Regions from separate parts of the Homo sapiens genome. Here region 2 is linked to region 1. A link means that fine-mapping ties the variant in region 1 to the expression of a gene that starts in the linked region. Tissue or cell type: whole blood. Region 1 holds a variant in brackets; the other region holds the start of a gene. All regions are shown on one strand. Distances are from middle to middle. Region 1 overlaps LOC107986023 (a long non-coding RNA gene). Region 2 holds the start of ATP2C1 (ATPase secretory pathway Ca2+ transporting 1).

The links.
Region 2: it holds the start of ATP2C1, and the variant in region 1 is fine-mapped to the expression of ATP2C1 in whole blood (INTERVAL, PIP 0.98).

Annotation. Positions count from the first base shown.
Region 1 is chr3:130,867,981-130,876,318 of GRCh38, reverse strand. The region is part of intron 1 of LOC107986023 (a long non-coding RNA gene); the gene reads left to right. It also overlaps a transcript of ATP2C1 not described here. Among named protein-coding and RNA genes, the nearest start is that of ATP2C1, 22 kb to the left of the region's middle. RefSeq lists an enhancer at 6,635-7,523. The variant TG/G (reference allele first, on the strand shown) is at 4,296.
Region 2 is chr3:130,889,621-130,897,958 of GRCh38, reverse strand. ATP2C1 (ATPase secretory pathway Ca2+ transporting 1) reads right to left here and starts at 3,875. Exons shown (of 28, transcript NM_001378687.1): 1 at 3,622-3,875; 2 at 3,184-3,369. The coding sequence starts at 3,189. It overlaps LOC107986023 (a long non-coding RNA gene), which reads left to right and starts at 4,038. Exons shown (of 3, transcript XR_001740492.2): 1 at 4,038-5,103. RefSeq lists a silencer at 3,621-4,010 and an enhancer at 4,101-4,320.

The DNA.
Region 1 (8,338 bases):
CCCTAACTCTCAGCATATATAAAAATGAACCCAATATGGATTAAATAATTAAATGTAAGACACAAAGCCCTAAAACTACTAGAAGAAAACAGGGAAAATGCTTCTGGACATTGGTCTAGGAAAAAATTTTATGGGTAAGACTTCAAGAGTACAGGGAACAAAAATAAAAATAGACAAGTGGTACTATATCAAACTAAAAGCCTCTGCACAACAAAGAGTATCATCAACAAAATGAAGAGACAACCTGTAGAATGGAAATAAATATTTGCAAACTATTTACCTGACAAAATATCCAGGATATACAAGGAACTGAAAAAAACCAACAGCTCAAAAAATAACTCCAAAAAAAACTCAAATATTTTGATTTAAAAATGGGCAAATGATCTAAAGACACTTCTCAAAGCAAATGGCCAACAAGTACATAAAAAAAAAAAACACTCGACATCACTAATCATCAGAGAAATGCAAATCAAAACCACGATGAGATATCACCTCACACTTGTTAGAATGACTATTGTCAAAAAGACAAAAACTAACAAATGCCAGTGAGGATACAGAAGAAGGGAAACTCATACAGTATTAGTGTGATTGTAAATTTGTACAGCCGTTATGGAAAACAGTATGGAGGTTCCTCAAAAAACTAAAAATAGAACTATCATGTGATTCAGCACTACCGGGTACCTATCCAAAGAAAAGCAAATCAGTATATTGAAGAGGTATCTACACCCCCATGTTTATTGTAGCATTATCCACAATAGCCAAGATAATGGAATCAAACTACAAGTCCATCAACAGATGACTGGATAGAGAAAATGTGGTATATATACACAATAGAAAACGATTCAGTTATAAATAAGAATTAAGTCCTGTCATTCATGGCAACATGGATGAACCTGGAGGATGTTATGTTAAGTGAAATAAATAAGGCACAAAAAGATAAATAACACATGTTCACACCCATACATGAGCTCAAAAGTTGAACTCATAGAAGTAAATAGTAGAATAGTGGTTACTAGAGGCTGGTAAATGTAGTTGGAGGGGAGGAATAGGGAGAGGTTGGTTAATGGATACAAAATTACAGCTAGATAGGAGAAATACATTACAGTGTTTTATAGCACTGTGGGATGAGTATAGTTAACAACAATTTACTGCATATTTTTAAAAAACTGGAAGAGAGGATTTGGAATGTTCCCAACAAAAAGAAATCATAAATTTTTGAGGTGAGGGATATGCTAATTGCCCTTACTTGATGATTACACATAGTACAGATGTATCAAAATATCATTCTGTGTTGCATAAATAAATACAACTATTACATGTGAACTAAAAAGAAAAGAAAAAATCCATTCGTTTCCAAGATCATTAGTCTAAGTTAATATTTCTCAGTGTGGCTTTACTATGAGCAGCATCAGCATCACCTGGGAATTTATTAGAAATGCAAATTCTCACACTCCGGCGAGTCCTACTGAATCAAATTCTGGGGATTAGATGCAGCAGTCTGATTTAGCAAGACTTTTCAATGATTCTGAATGCTTGGAAGTACAGCAGCCACCTTTTTATCCCTCCTTCTACCCTTCCCCTGAGAAAAGACAATACTAAGAATGGCAAAGTAGTGACTCGAAGAAGCCAAGTCCTTTAATACATAATTAAGCTAACAAATAAACCAACTCTGGGGCCTGCCCTACCACTAGACTTCCTCTAATGTGAGATAATAAATGAACTACATTTTCTGTTACATACAATCAGAAGAATCTTAATTGATAGATTAAATGAGAGGAAAAAATTTAGTTTAGATTAATAGGTTAAAATGTTGGTTGATGATTGTTCCTATAAAAGTGAAGAGTATAATACAATATGAATTATTCAAATGATAAAATGTTACGACAAGTACTTAAAATGTTAAAGGCGATGTTAATCAATAGGAAGTTACAGAATAAGATGTCCAAAAACTGAATAAGAAGTGTGTCTGTTTTTTAAGTTAAATAATTGCCATATTAGCAGATAAAGTTAAAAATTGGCTATTGACTTCAGAAATTCCATTGACAAGTTTTCCTTATCACTCATTAGAAATATTTTAAAATTATATAACTGACTGTATTTTATTCTTAAACATTGATGATCTTTTAGAATTTTTACTTATATAGTTGCATGCCCTGGGCACTAGATTTTTTTCTTATCTTTTCTTTTTCTTTTTTTCTTTTTTTTTTTTGAGACAGAGTCTCGTTCTGTCACCCAGGCAGGAGTGCAGTGGTGTAATCTCAGCTCACTGCAACCTCTGCCTCCTGGGTTCAAGCGATTCTCCTGCCTCAGCCTTCTGAGTAGCTGGGATTACAGGCACCCGCCACCATGCCGGGCTAATTTTTGTATTTTTAGTAGAGACGGGGTTTCACCATGTTGGTCAGGCTGGTCTAGAACTCCTGACCTTGTGATCTGCCCACCTCAGCCTTTCAAAGTGCTGGGATTACAGGGGTGAGCCACGGTGCCTGGCTAGATTTTTTTTCTTTAACTAATGATTACTTAGTGACAGATTCGACTATGGAATTGCTAAAATGAAACTAAATTTACACTTACTTAAAGTATACTATAGTCTTTTCTTTTTCCCAAAAGCTAGGCAAAAATATTTATTATTTTGTGGTTTGCACATCAACTTGTTTCTATTAGCAGACACAATTAGAACAGTTAAAAAGCTATGACATTTGAGTTTTTAAAAAACTTATATTTTTTCCTCATTTAAATGACAAAAATGTTATTTTAACCCTGGAAAAGTACAAAAGTACTTGGAAAGGTAAAGATGTCAACATTACACATTTGATTAAAACGTTTAAATTACTTTTAGGGAAGTGAGAATCAATTCTCACTGAACAGACACCAAAAGTACATATTTGTATATAATTAAATTTAATGCTCAAAACATTGCGAAGTAAGCAGACTAGATTTCATTAATTGCTTCTTAAAGGTGATGAAGATGAGACTCATACAAAGGAAGCTCCCTGCTCAAGAATTTCTCAGTGTTTAATGTCAAAGTTAGCAGTCTAATACCCATCTTGGCTTGGGTATCCCTCCATCCCTCAATGTTTCCACAATGCCTTATTGGAGAATATATAAGAAGCTGCTCTGTTTATTTAGTTACCTTTTGTAGTTTATCATTTTGTTTGTTAAATTCTTGCCTCTTTCAATTCAGTGTGGCCCCCTTTAACTTTAATAGTGCCTAATTTCTGAGTGTAGGATATATGCCCCATAGCTAATTTGATGACACTCAAGATTGTATTAATTAATAAGGTAACTGTCTTTCTTAGTCACTCTTAGTCAATATCTACATCTATTCACTTGTTTTTATTCAACCTTCAGATACCATTACTGGAGAAATTATTCTCCAAGCAGACCCTCTTCTAGAATCCCTTGGGTTTATCTTCTCAGAGTTGAAAAGTACTGCTCAAGCTGGGCGCAGTGGCTCACACCTGTAATCCCAGCACTTTGGGAGGCCGAGGCAGGTAGATCACAAGGTCAGGAGTTCAAGACTAGCCTGGCCAAAATGGTGAAACTCCGTCTCTACTAAATATACAAAAATTAGCCAGGTGTGGTGGTAGGTGCCCGTAATCACAGCTACTCGGGAGGCTAAGGCAGGAGAATCGCTTGAACCCAGGAGGCGGAGGTTGCAGTGAGCCGATTTCGTGCCACTGCACTCCAGCTTGGGTGACAGAGTAAGACCCCATCTTTAAAAAAAAAAAAAAGAAAAGAAAAGTACTCCTCAAATGGGAGTGTAGTCTCATGAATAATAATCACAGATAGGCATAGTACTGGTAAAATGGGAGTGTAATCTCATGAATAATAATCACAGATAGGCATTTTAGAGACATTATTCAATAGGTAATTGAGACATGTTAATTAACATGATCTATTGAAAAATCAACAGAATACATATTAAACATATGTCCTAAACCTAAAAGCCACTAAGTAGTATTAAGAATACTGATTTCATCTTTCCAGTTAAATTTTTGTTATTCAGAGTCTTTATAATTATGTTTAAACAATAAGCAGAGTAAGGGCTAGGGAAAAAATGAGGGTTTTATTCTTTGTTTCTTTTAATTAAGACCTCATAATGGCTTTAGAAAGTATGCAGGACCTAACAAGGATTATATCTTTTTGTATATTCCATGATTTAAATCAACAATTGAAATTCTCAGTTGCTACATCACTTTAATCAGCTATCGAAGATGATATAAACATAAGAACATATTTTAGATTATATTCTTAGGGCCAAGACATTGCTTAAAGATTTTTTTTTTTTTTTTTTT[TG/G]AGACAGAGTTTCACTCCTGTTGCCCAGGCTGGAATGCAGTGGCATGATCTCCGCTCACTGCAACCTCTGCCTCCCAGGTTCAAGCAATTCTCCAGCCCCAGCCTCCAGAGTAACAGGGGTTATAGGCACGCGCCAGCACGCCTGGCTAATTTTTGTACTTTTTAATAGAGATGGGGTTTCACCACATTGGCCAGGCTGGTCTGGAACTCCTTACTTCAGCTGATCCGCCGGCCTCTGCCTCCCAAAGTTTGGGATTATAGGGGTGAGCCACCGCCCCTGGCCTAAAGATTTCTTACTAAGCATTAAGTAACACTAGGCATCAGCCAAGGTGAATGAAAATGGTCAATTAAGAACCTGTGAAACTCTAAGTCATCATTAGTATCCCTCTGGCTTTGACAATGACTTACCATCTTCTAAGCAGCATACATGCTATTCTTGAGTAGGTATGACAAGCCCTGTCAGCTTTGATTTTGGAAATATACATCATCAAATGATCTGCAACAGTGGTTCTGAAAGTGTGGTCCCTCCCACCTGGAATTTTTTTAGAAATGCAGACTCTTGGGCCCCACCTCAGTCCTACTGTATTAGAAACTCTGGAGGTGGGGCCCAGCATTCTGTTTTAATTAGTCCTTTAGGTGATTCCAATGCATGCTAAAGTTTCAGCACTGTTTACAAGAAGCATTAAGCTTTCATCTAAAAATATTTTGATCATGCCAATAGTACTCAATTCTAAGAGTGAATAAGAATGTACAGGGATAACTCAGAGATATTGTGAGCTTGGTTTGAGACCACCACAATAAAGCAAATATCACAATACAGAAAGTCACACAAATTTTTTGGTTTCCCAGTGCATACAAAATTTATGTTTACACTGTATTGTAGTCTATTAAGTATTCAATAGCAAGTCTAAAAAAATGTATATACCTTAGTTAAAAAATACTTTATTGCTAAAGAATGTTAATGATCATCTGAACCATCAATGAGTCATAATATTTTGGCTGGTAGGGGATCTCGCCTTGACGTTAATGGCTATTGACTGATCAGGGCGGTGGTTGCTGAAAGTTGAAGTGGCGGTGGCAATTTCCTAAAATAAAACAATAATAAAGTTTGGTGCATCAATTGACTCTTCCTTGCACAAATGATTTCTCTGTATTGTCTGATGCTGTTTAGTAGCATAGTAGAACCTCTTTCAAAATTGGAGTCAGTCCTCTCAAACCCTGCCACTGCTTTATCACCTCAGTTTATAAAATACTCTAAATCCTTTGTCATCATTTCAACAATGTTCACAGCATATCTACCCAGCAATAGGTTCTATCATAAGAAAACATTTTCTGTGTTTTCTTATGAGGAAGCAATTCCTCATCTGTTCAACGTTTATCATGAAATTGCAGCAATTCAGTAACATCTTCAGGATCCACTTCTAGTTATCTTGCCCTTTCTACCACATCTGTACTTACTTCCTCCACTGAAGTCTTGAATCCCTCAAAGTCATCCATGAGGGTTGGAATCAACTTCTTCTAAACTCCTGTTAATGTTGACACTTTGTCCTCCTTTCATGAATCACAAATGTTTTTAGTGACACCTAGAATGGTGAATCCTCTCTGGAAAGTTTTCAGTTTACTTTGCCCAGATCCATCAGAGGAATCACTATCTATGGTAGCTATAGCCTTATGAAATGTGTTTCTTAAATAATAAGACTTGAAAGTTAAAATTCTTCCTTGATCCATGGACTGCAGAACAGACAGCAGACATGAAAACATTATTCTCCTTTTACCTCATGTCAGAGCTCTTGGGTGACTAGCTGCACTGTGAAGAGCAGTAATATTTTGAAAGGAATCTATTTTTTTTTTTGAGGTCTCAACAGTGGGCTTAAAATATTCAGTAAGCCATGCTATAAATGGATCTGCTGTCCTACAGGCTCTGTTGTTCCATTGATAGAGCACAAGCAAAGTAGATTTAGCATCATTCTTTAGGGACCTAGAATTTTCAGAATGATAAATCATCATTGGCTTCAACTTAAAGTCAACAGCTGTACTGGTTCCAAACAAGAAAGTCAGCCTGTGGCTTTTTATCCACATTGAAAATCTATTATTTAGTATAGCCACCTTCATCAATGATCTTAGCTAGGTCTTCTGGATTACTTGCTGCCACTTCTCCATCACTCCTTGCTGCTTCACCTTGTACTTTTATGTTATGGAGATTGCTTCTTTCCTTAAACCTCAAGAACCAACCTCTGCTATATTCAAACTTTTCTTCTGCAGCTAACCCTCCTCTCTCAACCTTCACAGAATTCAAGAGAGTTAGAGACTTACTCTGAATTAGACTTTGGCCTAAAGGAATGGTATGCCTGGTTTGGTCTTGTATCCAGACCGCTCAAACTTCCTGCACATTAGCAAAAATACTGTTTAGCTTTCTTATCATTTGTGTGTTCACTGGAGTAGCACTTTTAATTTCCTTCAAGAATTTTCCTTTGTATTGACAACTTGGCTAACTGATGCATGAGGCCTAGCTTTCAGCCTACCTCAGCTTTCAACATGCTTCCTCATTAAGCTTAATCATTTCTTTTTTTTTTTTTTTTTTTTTTTTTTTTTTATTTTTTATTGATCATTCTTGGGTGTTTCTCGCAGAGGGGGATTTGGCAGGGTCATAGGACAATAGTGGAGGGAAGGTCAGCAGATAAACAAGTGAACAAAGGTCTCTGATTTTCCTAGGCAGAGGACCCTGCGGCCTTCCGCAGTGTTTGTGTCCCTGGGTACTTAAGATTAGGGAGTGGTGATGACTCTTAACGAGCATGCTGCCTTCAAGCATCTGTTTAACAAAGCACATCTTGCACCGCCCTTAATCCATTTAACCCTGAGTGGACACAGCACATGTTTCAGAGAGCACAGGGTTGGGGATAAGGTCACAGATCAACAGGATCCCAAGGCAGAAGAATTTTTCTTAGTACAGAACAAAATGAAAAGTCTCCCATGTCTACTTCTATCCATACAGACCCGGCAACCATGCGATTTCTCAATTTTTTCCCCACCCTTCCCGCCTTTCTATTCCACAAAACCGCCATTGTCATCATGGCCCATCCCCAATGAGCCGCTGGGCACACCTCCCAGACGGGGTGGTGGCCGGGCAGAGGGGCTCCTCACTTCCCAGTAGGGGCGGCGGGGCAGAAGCGCCCCTCACCTCCCGGATGGGGCGGCTGGCCGGGCGGGGGGCTGACCCCCCCACCACTCTCCCGGACGGGGCGGCTGGCCAGGCAGAGGGGCTCCTCACTTCCCAGTAGGGGCGGCCGGGCAGAGGCGCCCCTCACCTCCTGGATAGGGCGGCTGGCCGGGCGGGGGGCTGTCCCCCCCCACCTCCCTCCCGGACGGGGCGGCTGGCCGGGCAGAGGGGTCCTCACTTCCCAGTAGGGGCGGCCGGGCAGAGGCGCCCCTCACCTCCCGGACGGGGCGGCTGGCCAGGCGGGGGGCTGACCCCCCACCTCCCTCCCGGGCGGGGCGGCTGGCCGGGCAGAGGGGCTCCTCACTTCCCAGTAGGGGCGGCCGGGCAGAGGCGCCCCTCACCTCCCGGACGGGGCGGCTGGCCAGGCGGGGGGCTGACCCCCCACCTCCCTCCCGGACTGGGCGGCTGGCCAGGCCGGGGGCTGACCCCCCCACCTCCCTCCTGGACGGGGCGACTGGCCGGGCAGAGGGGCTCCTCACTTCCCAGTAGGGGCGGCCAGGCAGAGGAGCCCCTCACCTCCCGGACAGGGCAGCTGGCCGGGCGGGGGGCTGACCCCCCCACCTCCCTCCCGGATGGGGCGGCTGGCCGGGCAGAGGGGTCCTCACTTCCCAGTAGGGGCGGCCGGGCAGAGGAGCCCCTCACCTCCCGGCCGGGGCGGCTGGCCGGGCGGGGGGCTGAGCCCCCCCACCTCCCTCCGGGACGGGGTGGCTGCCGGGCGGAGACGCTCCTCACTTCCCAGACGGGGTGGTTGCCGGACGGAGGGGCTCCTCACTTCTCAGACGGGGCGGTTGCCAGGCAGAGGGTTTCCTCACTTCTCAGACGGAG
Region 2 (8,338 bases), 22 kb before region 1:
GCATCTCAAGATGCCTAAGCGGGATCTGTTTAGATTTGTGATAAACATGTAAAAACAAATTCCAAAGGATCTGGATAAAATCCTAACTCACGACTGAATGTTAAGTAGTCCAAAAATTCCAGGAAATTAACATTTTAAACGTTCCTAGTGACAAGCAGAAAGTGTTCATGAAACATCCTGGAGTCTACAGCTAAAAATTGGTCAAGCTTTGCTGAGAAAGTTTAAATGGGCCCTAGGAAAAAAGTCCAGAAGAATCTAAACCGAAGTGCCAAAGAAAATACCACCATTGCTGAAGGAACCAACACATGGATGAAACCATTTCCTCCCCACACCACTGTAAGCTACCTAAGAAACCTTCATGCTGATGCTCTAGGGAAACACTATCAATTCTACACTGTTCACACCCACAAATGTAACTACCTGCATACCTACTGGAGGATACTCTTACTAGGGAACAGCAGCATCACTCAATTCATCCAAGTTAACTGTATGTCAAACATTGCTCTGGCGGCTTCATTTATTACTCACATCAACTTTGCAAGAGGGCATTATCTCATTTACAGATGAGATAACTTAGAGGCTGAGAAAGCTTAGAAGCCTAGTAACTTGTCAGATTTTTCAGGAGAGGAAAACATTACTTGTCGGGCTTCAAATCCAAACCTGTCTCTTTCTGTACTGGACCCTGGCTTCTTGGTAGAGCCCTAACTTTTTCTGTAGGCTTAAAAGCACTAATGCCATAGAAAATTCCTTACCTAACTCCACTTATCCCTCAACTAACAATGACAACTTCATTTTGAGCATTTGGCTACTACTGTTCCCCCTTCCAACATTTAACTGTCATGACAATATTAATGCCAGGTGGCCTATTAGTATGTATCAAACATTCAGCTAGGCAATTTATAATTAACATTTACCGAGCACTTACTATGTGCCAGATACTGTTTGAATGTTTACAACAACCTCATAAGGTAGGTTCTATCATTATCTTTATTTTATGAAGAAACGGAAGCACAGAAAACTTTAATATGCACAAAGCCAAATGGTAAGCGACGAATCCAGCATTCAAATCAGTCTGCATGGTTCCACCACAACTCAAGCTCTTAAACGTTATCATTCCTACCTCACAAGAGAATTTATACAGGGTTTCTCATTTAATCCTCTCAATTCTGTGAGTTAAAGATTATCAATCCCAATTTATAGATGAAGAAATACAGGCTCAGAAAGGTGACGTAATTTACTTAAAATCACACAGCTTTAAGTGGTTCAAGACAAGTTAGTCAAGACTTGAATCCATTTTTGTTTCACACCTCCAAATTGTTAATACTACACTATATCAAAGAAGGATGAAAACTACAAAAAGGCAAGTGAACAATAAAAAGGCACAGGTATCAATCTATGTAGTTTAATATGGTCAGTCACTTTTGAAAATTTCTAGGCTATATACAGGCTCTTCTTCAAACTGTTTATATATAAAAAAAAATGTGACGATAGGGAGAAACTGACAAAAATGGTCTCTTGATGGTCAAGAATAACGGGACAGAAAACCCCACACGTTTTTAAGAACTGTATAATCTTTTACTATGAAACCACAAAATTCATATTTGGCCACAAAATACAGAGACAGACACAAGTAGGCACCATTCTCCTATCTCACAACCACCCCCTCCCACCTCAGTAGATAATGAGAATCGGCTTTATTACTCATGCTCTTCCTCCTGAGAGATCAAGAAACAAAAGCAACATGAAAGAATCCACCTACTTTAGGCTACCCTCTTAAATCTGGTACCATTCTGAAAACAAGCTCATAAACATACATTAAATGTTAGAAGTTATTTAAGATGTTTCTACCAAGAAACAAGTATATGAATGCATTTAACATTCTTTGTCTCATGTGCAGAATGGATTTGCCTTTCTTAAATCAATAAACTTAAAAGAGAGGAAAAAGGCTCAGAAAAGTGACTTTCCTTATCACCAAAAACATCACTGCTTTCAAATGTTTCTCAAGACCCAATTAGACAGTATAACTCCTCTGCAGTTATACACTTTAGTATTTCAGAAAATGTCTTCCGCCAATTATCCATCCAGAGTAAAATTTGTCAATATAATCATGCCTCTCATCATATTCCCTACATAGCCCAGAGGTCTCAGAGAGCAAAACACATTACTGCATCTATAAGAAACACCCATTTCAAAATTACTAGTCCTAGTCAGACAATCAAGCTTACATTCTCAACAATGGAAAAACAAATTAGAAGCAGCCAGCAAGACTGCAGCTCCTTTATACCAGACACATATTTTTTAAAACAAATTATACCAGAGGAAAAAACTGTCATTTGTTAAGTATCTTTTATAGTATTTTGCAGCCCGGTTAAAGGCAGAAGAAAAAAAAATGATCACGCACAAGTCAGAAGTCAGTCCAAAGAATAAGTGTTGTTTCAGGAGGGGGAAAAAAAATCACTTATTCACAGTTGTTCAACAATTTTAAAAATAATCAGTGCTGTGTAGGAAAAGCATTAAATATTTTAACGAGGCCAAAGGGATCATGTAACATGTGAATGACGATCTAATGTGTCCAAAGTGTACAGTGAACAAACAGGTTCCGCTGTCAGCCTCCTAAATGATGTTTTGAAATAGGGTGGAACTTTAAGAAAAGCACTCATCTCATAACATTTCATTAAATTCACTGGGTTTTTTTTGTGAATTGAAAAATAATGAGTTTTTTCCCCAATGCTAGACATAATAAAACATGGCTTGCTTTCTTATAAATGAATCCTGCCACACACCACATCGAGGCTTGAAACGCCAATATACAGAGATGCAGCCCCATCCCCTTGTCCCCCATTTCCACTTCCCCTCGAGTAATTCCTTTCAAATAGCTATTTAAACATGCACAGACGCTATCTGAAATGAAAACTTCCCTCTCATTCCCTAAGCTGAAGAGAGCAGGAATTCCTCAAGAAAGCTGAATCAAGCTCAGTCACCCACAGAACCTCAATCTCTCAAATGCCCCATGTTACCAAAATAAAAGCTGGATACCCTAAGTAAGCAAATCCTTGGACACTTCACATACACAGTAAATAAATAAGCTCACGAAAATAAAAAGGTGGAAAAACAAAGACAACTTAAAAGCAAACCACCACACCCTCAACTCCGCGTTGCAACCGGTCGGCCAGGGGCCTTTACCTTCATTTTCCATCGAAACTGCACTCGGGTTGATGGCTACAAAGTCTTTAGTGTCAGCCACGGCCACACTGGGAATAGAGAGGAGAGGAGGAGGACAAGGAAGAGAAGCCCCCGGAATCCCAGGCTGTCACCCCCGCTCCCGGCCACGCGTCCCACGGCTGCTCCCACCACCCCTAGCAGCAGCATCTGCAAGAGAAACCAGGAGAAGCGGCGCTGACGAGAGGCTGAGGAAGGAGTTCCCCGCCCAGCCACTATCTCGGGAGCCCCCCTCCCCAAGATCCCGCACCCGCCCCGTCGTGTGCCCGCAACGTCCCCAGCTCACGCCAGCGGGGCGGCGCCCTAGAGATGCCCCCCCATCCAGGGGATACCCGAACCTCCCCTTCCTTCAGAACCTGGAAGTTTCTAGAAATGGGGGCAGGAGGTAATACTGGTACCCACCCAAAGCCCCGGACAGCCCTCCTCCAGGCTGCGGGGTCTCAGCCGCGGGGCTCGCGGGGGCGCCCCGCGCGCCTCGGGAGAAGAGGAGCTGCTCGCGGGGCAGCGGTGCGAGGCGGGAGCCTGCTCCCGGCGTGAGAAGAAGCGAGCGGGAGGGAGGAAGGGAGGGAGAGAGGGCGGGCGGGGAGGGGAGAGAAGAGGAGGTGAGGGGACCCGTCACGGTCCGCCGGGCCGGCTCCGCGAGGCCGTGCTGGTCTGCTCCCGCCTCCGACTCCTGCGCTCCGCCCCTCCCCGCCGCCGGCCGCCCAGTCGCGCCCCGCACTCCTGGGCCAGCCGCGAACCCAGCTTTGTCACTATTACTTCCGCTGAGAGAGGTGCGCGCAGGCGCATTCGTGTTCACGGGCTGGGAAGGCGGAAGTGAAGTGAAGGCCGAGACTTCGGCCCGGAATGGACAATGTTTGGGTTTGGATCCGTCCGGTAGGAGGTCGCTCGGGGTTGGTGGCCCGCCTTGTTCTTGCTGGCGCCTCCCTTACCCCAGGGACGGTGTCCGCCCGTTTATATGCACCCCCTGAACGCGAGGGTCGGAGATTCGCCCACGCCCCGTGTCGGCCACGCATTCCCGTGGGGCGGCCGCGGGGTCGGCCCAAGCTGAGAGTCATGGCCGCTGTCCCCGAGGCGTTTAAGCGCTCTCTACAAAGTCTGTAGGGGAAGCTGCTCCCGTCGGGGTGGCAGTCACAATCTCAGCAGGCAACGTTGAGGCCCACGGAAGGAAGGGGCGAGGTGTCCATGCTCCTGCCAGGGACTGGAGCACCGTGAGCAGCCTCCCGAGTCTCGCACTCTCACTTGCAAAACCCTGCACTGACTGCTTGGTTCTTGGGGGAGCCGGTAATCGCGGGGCGACTTCCCAAAATTCTTTAAGGGGTGTGCTTAGTTACCATGTGTAATGAGAGAGCAAGGTTCAGCCTCAGAGAGCTCCAGGGAGAGCTAATCTTTTTCATTCGTTTGTGGTATATGGAACTGGGGAGAGGCTGGAACAGCAATTAGAAACCAGTCGTACAGCTGTCGAAGCCAATGAACGAGCACTTCTTTTAGCAGCTGTACCTTTGTCCAGTGTCAATGCCTTTTCACACGTAAACATTTCACTTGCTCGGCATCTTACCCAGACCCCTAATAAGTGCTTTTTAATGAACGATTGGTTTTAATAAACCGTGGTGAGCCAGACATATAATGTTGAACAGAAGTCCTCTCACACCCATAACCACTAGAGGGCAGGGCTTCACCTACTGAGTTGGTGATCATCCTACAGAGAACTCAAAAGAAAATTTCCGTATATGCTAGATGTGTTTTTCTCCATCAACACTTAGACACTTTACAAATTTGCTTTTTATCTCAGGTCCTGTAACATATCGCAGTGTGCTCTCTAACCACACGTTCAACATCAGAATTAACGGACGGGGTTGCCTGTGTTTCTATATTTGTTCCCAAGTAAGTGGTACTAGACTAGGATTGAAAATTCTGGACAGCTTTCTAGATTTACCTTTCTTTTAAGAAATATTGAACTTTTATTCAGCGAGGTCACTTTTAAAGATGAACCCATAAAAATCACTATCAAGTAGATTTCTAGTCTTAACGAGTTAACTATGATCCACCTCTGGCATGCATGGTCAGTGATTTTTGTCTGCACAATGACGGAGCCAAATTAACGGACGGGGTTGCCTGTGCTTCTATATTTGTTCCCAAGTAAGTGGTACTAGACTAGGATCGAAAATTCTGGACGGTTTTTAGATTTACCTTTCTTTTAAGAAATATTGAACTTTTATTCAGCGAGGTCACTTTTAAAGATGAACCCATAAAAATATCAAGTAGATTTCTAGTCTTAGGAGTTACTATTTATGATCCACCTCTGGCATGCATGGTCAGTGATTTTTGTCTACACAATGACATAGCCTGTGATTTGTACAATGATTGTGATCTCTCGTAATCAATTTGTAACAGTTATTACTGTACATATTCGACCTTGAAACAGCATTATATTAAAAACAAAAGCACCTAAGGTAGGAAATTACACAATATAAATACTTTGATATTAACATATGCATTTACAAAATAGAGGGTAACTGTACAGAATTTGGTATTGGGTCACTTTAGCTGAAACATTTTTCTAAAGCAACTTTTCAGAACTATCTGTTGTATTAATATACTGCAATACTCTAGCATTAACACTGAATCTATAACTCCTCCAAAAGATTTATAGCTCCATGGTTTATTCCTAAAATGACTTAAACTGAAATTTTACTTTTGGTCCCCTAAATTATGAAAATCATTGTTCCTATTACTAAGCCAAAAAAGAAACTGGTAAGATCAAGATCAACTTTACCAAGAAGAATTGACCAATTAGTCATTTTATATAAAAAACTTAAGCATCTGGAAATTTTGGTGTCTGAGGGGGTTCTGGAACCGATCCCCTGTGGACAATGAGGGATGACTATATACATATATATGTCATACACACACATATGTATATGTATAGACAAACATATACACATATATATGTATATTCATACACCCACATATACATACACACTAGCCTTCTTTCAAAAGATTTTTGTAAGAATCTCATAAAGTAAGTGAACACAGGTTGCAAATTATAAGCACTATAGAAGTATAAGATTATTATAGAGAGAATCAAGGAAATCCCTGGAGTGTTAGCTAGCTACAATGGGATTGATGGCAATGAAACATATTATTTCCAAGTTTCAGCTTATTGCTTCCATAGAAATCAAAGCTCTAAAAATTCTTTCTACTCTCCTTTTGTCCTGAATATTTAACCTACAAAATTAAATGCATCTGATGCAAAAAGTGGTCACGTGCAAGAAAGGGAAATTTGTCAGGCTTTTCCGCTTGGGGGAAATATTACAAATGGGAAAGATTGAAGAAGAATGGTCATGACATTCTAATTTTCTTTATACTGTGCTTTATTCCACAAAGGGTGTGCGGTATCTTGTTTTTAATATCAAATTTGATAGCTGCATTTTTATAAACCTGGATGGTACAAGAATATGTGGTTCTTTAGGGATTTAAAAATTAAAACTTGGAAAAAATTATTTTAAAATCTTTCCTCAATTAATTAATGTCTTCTTTTAAAGGCTGTTTTAATGTTGTTTAAAGTACCAGAGGTTAATAGTTAAGAAATTTCACCTAGCTGCTAGAAAAGAAATTGTAATTTTATTTTAAGTTGAACATTTTATTTATTTACTTACTAACTTAAGAGACAGAGTCTCTGTCGCTGAGGCTGGAGTGCAATGATGCCATCATAGCACACTGCAGTCTTGAACTCCTAGGCTCAAGAGATCCTCTTGCCTCGGCCTACCAATGTGCTTGGGATTAGAGGCATGAACCACCATGCCTGGCAAAGTTGGACACGTTAAAAACATATAAAGATGCATCACTTTATTTTTATAAGCTAACCTACTCCAACAGAACAACAGAAGTATTTTTCTTCTTATAAGATAAAGGACATGCTAAATGTCAAGTTTAGAAAACTATAGTTTTATTGCCAAGAGTGTTGTACGAAATCAGTTCCTAACAAACATCTACCAGAATTGCTATAAATCTGCCTAGTTCCATGTTTTGGCAGTGCTGGAAGATTAAAAGTTGGAAGCAAGAATAAAAATTGAAGGACTCATATGAGCTACTTGTGTTTGGTTGGTTTTAATAGCACCCAGATCCAGATCCCCAAGTACTCTACAAATATTTTATCACTCACAAAATTCCATAGCCTCTTTCACACTTGCTAGCATTTTAAACATGAAATATTTGATGAAACTGAGATGAAATGAGAGAACTTATACTCTTAATTTTTATTGTTAAAGAAGTTTATTTCAAGTATGACATAGTCTCTCCATTCATTGGCTCAGATTCTGAGCCAGTGGTAATATTTGGGATCTTATATACTACCAGTCTTCTGGATTAGACATGAGTGTCGATGGGATGCATGTGAAAATAAGAAAGAGGTAAGAGCAAAGTGAGTGTGAGTCCCATGACCCAAGAGTACCATGACCAATGAACTTCATCATTTCCATGGAAAACAGACATACAATATTCCAAATTATATAAACTACAGGATTTGTTTTGAGATACAAAGGTATCCATTTAAATGATAATATTCCACCTAGTTTCCAAACTAGCATAATTCACCTCTGGCCCCAAAACATTTGACAGCAGTAAATATGTAATAAAGACCTATTAAATAAATGGATAGCCTGAAAAATGTTTATCATAAATATTTTTTGTTGAATGAATAACAATCTACTTGTTTCCTATGATCAAACTAAAATCCAAGCTCCTACTTTCCTGTAAAACCAAGAGGACTTAAGGGATTTTTAAGAAGTTTAAGGGTTTCTGGTGCATCTCACACCTGTAATCCCAACATTTTGGGAGGCTGAGGCAGGAAAATTGTGTGAGCCCAGGAGTTCAAGACCAGGCTTGACCACATAGTGAGATCCTGTCTTTACAGAAAATAAAAGCATTAGCTGGGTGCAGTGGCACACACCTGTGGTCCCTGATACTCAGGCAGCTGGGGTGGGAAGATTGCTTAAGCCCAGGAGGTCAAAGCTGCAGTGAGCTGTAATCATGCCACTGCACTCCAGCCTGGGGGACAGAGCAAGAAACTGTCTCAAAAAAAAAAAAAAAAAAAAAAAAAGTTTAAAGAATAAACCTA